2 separate regions of the Homo sapiens genome follow, and region 2 is linked to region 1. The links come from fine-mapping of genetic effects on gene expression. Tissue or cell type: lymphoblastoid cells. Region 1 holds a variant in brackets; the other region holds the start of a gene. All regions are shown on one strand. Distances are between the middles of the regions.

What was found. PIP is the estimated chance that this variant, and not a neighbour inherited with it, causes the effect.
Region 2: GANC starts here. The variant in region 1 is fine-mapped to the expression of GANC in lymphoblastoid cells (GEUVADIS, PIP 0.91).

The regions. Positions count from the first base shown.
Region 1 is chr15:42,411,579-42,414,078 of GRCh38, reverse strand. It overlaps CAPN3 (calpain 3), which reads right to left. Exons shown (of 24, transcript NM_000070.3): 24 at 1,762-2,332. The coding sequence ends at 2,306. ZNF106 (zinc finger protein 106) reads left to right here. Exons shown (of 22, transcript NM_001366845.3): 22 at 1-1,256. Among named protein-coding and RNA genes, the nearest start is that of CAPN3, 53 kb to the right of the region's middle. The variant T/G (reference allele first, on the strand shown) is at 1,270.
Region 2 is chr15:42,272,075-42,274,701 of GRCh38, reverse strand. GANC (glucosidase alpha, neutral C) reads right to left here and starts at 1,501. Exons shown (of 24, transcript NM_198141.3): 1 at 192-1,501. The coding sequence starts at 220. TMEM87A (transmembrane protein 87A) reads left to right here and starts at 1,269. Exons shown (of 20, transcript NM_015497.5): 1 at 1,269-1,447; 2 at 2,579-2,627. The coding sequence starts at 1,304. RefSeq lists enhancers at 108-1,307, 1,280-1,509, 1,670-1,919.

The DNA.
Region 1 (2,500 bases):
AGAATGTTACTCTCGGTTGCTTTTGTCTAATTCTAATGGCTTAAAGCCAAGAAAACCATAGTATAAATCTTTTTGTGTACCTATGCTAGTGTTTAAATGGCAGTTCGTTGTGATAAAGTATCAGTCACTTCAAGTTTTCTGTGAAAGTTTTTAATTAGGTTAAAAATAATTTTGGCATACGTCTCTACTCAGTTTATAAAGCAGTTCCACACCATGCAAACAAAACTCTAACAGCAAAGGTTATCTTGACCTGATGTTACTTGAATCTGAGAGAAAGTCATTACTTACTACTGCACTCCTGCTTTTGTGGGAAAAATTTTCTTCTTCCCCAGAAGAGTTAACAGTTGAGTGTTCAGCTCCTGACTTACCTTTAATTTAGAGGCAATATTATTACTGTTTAAGTGATTATTTGCTTAACACAGGTTTTATTTTGTCTTTTTGCTGGTAGATTATACAAGGGACAACTTTAGTGATGAGGCATGTGGATGATTTGGTGGGAGTAGGTATATACTTAGTGGAATGGTTTATTTTATGGAAGAGAATTCATTGGAGGTGAGATTGAAGTATATTGTGAAGTGGGATTTGAACAGCACATATGCTCTGGTTTGCTCAAATAACTGCAGTTTATGCTTACATCTAAATTTTGTTTCTGTTACCTAAACGGGAGCTTCTAGAATTACGAAGGCCATACCTGCCACATTTATAAAATAATGGTTTTATCCCTGCCCCCAAATCATCAGGTTCCTCGGGTTTAAGAGAAGTGGTCTAATAGACAGGAATAGAAGTTGTGGTGGAGGTGATTTGGGATAGACTAGGTTTCCTTATGCAAGTGGATATGAGCTCCTCATAGAAACCAGACCTACTGTATTAGACAGTAACCTCTAACCTCACCTCCAAGCCCAAGTATATGGCCCTGCTGGGTTACCTGGTGACTACATTTCCCAGATTCACTCTAAATTCAAGGTAGTGACCCAAATAAATTGGGAAAGGAGGGGGTCAAGGAGGAAAAGCTGTTGAAAATCTTTCTCCTATTTAAGAGAAATATATGCCCTAGAGCTGCTCCAGCACCCTTGGTTTCTGATTTTTTTAATATTGAATATGGATTAGAAGAATGAAATCAGATGACACCTGACTGCAAAAATGTTTATAAGCAAATAGCCTTCTTACATTTTGGTATAAAGCTGTGAACTTCGTAACTTTGTAAAGCAAGATATAAAGCAAATACAAGAGGAAAATAAAGTACTTTTACTAATTGACGGTTTACTTTCG[T/G]TACCTTGTCTGCATATTCACGGCCAGCCCTTTCCACGTTGGCTTAGCGAGGAAGAAGGAAACTGGGTGGAAAACACAGGATGCCTATAGATATGCCGCAGGCCATGGTCCAGAGAAGTTTAGCAAACAAACAGCTGCGTTCAGGGTTTTGTCCACGGTCATGCGACAGGTCAGTTAGTGAGCAGAGGAGCTAGGATAGCTCAATCTCCACTCCATTATTCAGGTAACCGGCCCCTCCCGTTGTACATGACCCATTTATTCTTGATGTCTTTTACAGCAACAACTATTCCTCTGCCTTCCTTTTATGTCTTGGAAAGTATCTGAGCCATTCTTATGCTCAAGAAATAGCAATAGGCATGATTACAAAATTCAAGATTTTGTTTTTGTGTGTGTTTTTCATTGTTCTCTTGTAGGTGATAGGTGAGTATATGATTGGAAGCCATTCAGTCATGCATGGCTGATATCTAAATGTGAGACAACAAAACACAAGGGGACCAGCCATACACATGCCTTTATTTAGATCAGCTTTTTTCAAAATGCAGCCAAACTTATGAGTTGGACAGCCCAAAGTAACCAGCCCTATTCCACTGAGTTAGTTTACCCCACAGCAGTAGAACCCAGTGCTGGTTTGGTTCCTGGCCCATGGTGGGACAGCGTGAAGGTGATGGAGGGCTCTAGCACAAGGAGGTGCTGAGTGCCACCGGCAGGTGCTTCTGCAGACAGCCTAGAGCAAGGTAAGCAGGAGCACTCGCTTCAGAACCGAGGCGGCTCGGACCAGAGGCAGGCACTTTCCTCCACATGGCAAAGGGACAAGGGTTTGTTCTTCCTACCTCATTGCTTTACTAAAGGGTCAGGCTAGGCATGACCGATCAAGGATGGGTAGGGGGTAAAATGGAGGAGGAGCATGACTGATGAGGTGCCTGGAAGCCTGTAGGGGTGTAGCTGCTGGGTCCTTTGAGGTAAATGGCTTTGGAAATAGAGGGTGAAACTGAAATCCTGAGTGATCCTGCATGGCTTTGGATGAGGCCAGCCTGGTTCAGGCATACATGGTGAGCTGCAGCCACTGAAAGAAGTCCCAAGATCAGAATGTAGATCAGAAAAGAGTGACCCCCCCCCCCCCCGCCCTAGGAATCTTACGGGGCAAGAGGAAAGGGAACAGTCCCAGCAGGTCAGACCCCCAGAAGATTTTCCAAGAAGCAGTGGCTTACTGTTTCCTTTCTCCTAGATCTTC
Region 2 (2,627 bases), 140 kb after region 1:
GCACCCGGCCTATTTAACCATCCTGAAAGTATTTTATGAGAGGCTATTAATATCAACTAACTTCCCGCGAATTGAGAGAAAAGATAAAGGTCAGCAAATACCAAATACGCAAATAAGAAATGCAATTAAAACACTATTCCCTGTTTCTAGGGACCCTGGGGTCACTCGCTACAGAAGCACTTGGCCTTTACCTTATTTCCTCTTTCACTGCTGCTTCCATGGCTTCTCTGTCACTCCGACCAGCTCCCAGCTCTCAGGACAAGGGCCCTGGGCGATCTTTTAAAAAAGCCGATTGGGTGTCTTTCTAAAATTACAACCAGTACTTCATCGTCAAGTTTCTGGGAAGGGAGTCCCCTCCAGATTCTCATGGAGTGACAAATCTTGACTCTTGCTCCTGGAATTTTTCAGGCCCAAACTAGCGTTTCTACAATGATTTATTTGGCAAATTTGTCTTGATTATGGGTGGCTGATGAGGAACGTGCTTTTGTTAGGAACCGAAACTGGGCGGCGGTGAGGGCGTGTACGCAATGAGTCCTAGAGGGTAAAAATCAAGAGCGTTAAGAACCTGGAAATGCCGAGACGGCCTCCCTGACTGGGACGAAGCATCTGCAGATCTATCTCAGTGGCGGGGTCACGCCACAGATTTTGAAAACTGACCCTCTCTGTCTCCGTTTTCGGTTAAGGGTGGGAAGTGCCGGCCGGGTCTTTGCTGGAGGCTAGGTCTCCAGCCAGATTGTACTGCAGCATCGTACTCTTCAGGGCTAGAAGGGGCCTTTGAAGGTTGTTACACTACCCAGTCTAGGAATCGCGTGTACTCCACCACCGCCGAATTCCAGCCTTTGCTTAAATACCACCCAAACCGGAGAACTCACTACTAGACGCCACTTGGGCAGCCAGGCTTAGGGCTTTTCCAGACTTTCTGGCCCCAAAGTCTGACATTGACTTAGAAGGGATGAAGGGCTGGGGCGAGCGGAAGTAGAGAGCCAAATCCTGCACGGGGTGCCTGCCTGGTCCTAAAACCTTTAACGGCTGGGAGACAGAAAAGACTCAGGCCAGGCTGGCATGTAGCGATCTCTCTAACCCAGCTGACCAGGTTCCAACAGGATGACGCCTGCGCAGTAGGTCCAAAGTCTCACGGCGCACAGACGACTGTCTGAGAGAGGGGCCGCTACGCCGCACAGCAAACAAGCTCCGCGACGTTTCCAGGACCCGGATAATCCCGCCCTTAGAGCAGAGCCGGAAGAAGGCGGGACGAACCGGAAGAGGGTGAAATGCTTTCGGTAGGCACTCCACGGCTGTGAAGATGGCGGCGGCTGCGTGGCTTCAGGTGTTGCCTGTCATTCTTCTGCTTCTGGGAGCTCACCCGTCACCACTGTCGTTTTTCAGTGCGGGACCGGCAACCGTAGCTGCTGCCGACCGGTCCAAATGGCACATTCCGATACCGTCGGTGAGTATTCACTTCACTAACGTCTGAACCTAGAGGAGCAAGGGGTGGGGCTACGGCGGCCCAAGGGGTCCATGAAGGTTCCGCAAAAGTCTCTTCAAAAGGGGTGGGGTTGCTGGGATGGTCTGTGTGGCTAGCCAACTGGGACCCACCTCCCTGGAGTGGAAAGCCGCGCACTTCTGTGATTAGGCTAGCGGGAATGTAAGGGCCACTTCAGCAACAGAAAGGAGTGGTGGAGCGGCTTCTCATCAGAAAAACAGAACTTTCAGTGCCTGACTTGAGATGTAAACTTGATGTACAAACGGAGAGTTGTTTATCTTTCAGATGTTTCACAGAATCCAGTGTCCCCGGGTTGGATAAGAAAGATATGTAAATAGGAGTCTTCATTTCTTTCTTTCTTTTTCTTCCTCTGCACTTCTTGGTCCCTGGGTAATTCTGCTTACGAGATGGTTCGACTTCGCTTCAACTTTGGAATGGCTATTCTAAGCTTTACTGTGTGACTAGAAAGCATAGAGATTTAAGAAATGTGTTTTAACATGGGAATGGTTAAAATTGAAGAAATAGTACTTAAAATTTAATGTGGTAAGGCTAGTCTTTCATTTGGATAATTAACTACATGGGTTGACCCTTTCTGCCCCTTACCCATTTTAAACCTTATTTCAGTAACAGGTATAGTCCTGTGAGCAGACAAAAACCAGATGCAGGGAGGAAATGCTGAAAAGCATTAGCCCCATTAAACCTACGTTGGCCTTTTTGTTTCATTCTGCTCTGCTCACTGACTGTAATGTCCAAATCTTATTTGGGCTTTTATTATGGTAAACGTTATACCTTTTGTTCAGTGGTGAAGATTTTCAGGTGTTCAGTTAGGTTTTTACTTGTTACTAAAATGGTTAATAGTTAAGTCTTTTTAGATTTGAAAATAAAACTCTGGTTATTTGCACACAGAATAGTTCATTAGAAAAAATGATTGGTTATTCTGAGCAGTGATTGGTGAGTAAAGGGAATGAACTGATTAAGGGGTACGTCCCATAAAGATTTAAGTTAAGTTGGAATTTCTAGCAGTCTTAGATAGTTATATGATGCTTTGGTAATTGAAGCCATCTGAGGCTAATTATCTTTCCTTTATGTTTGCAGGGGAAAAATTATTTTAGTTTTGGAAAGATCCTCTTCAGAAATACCACTA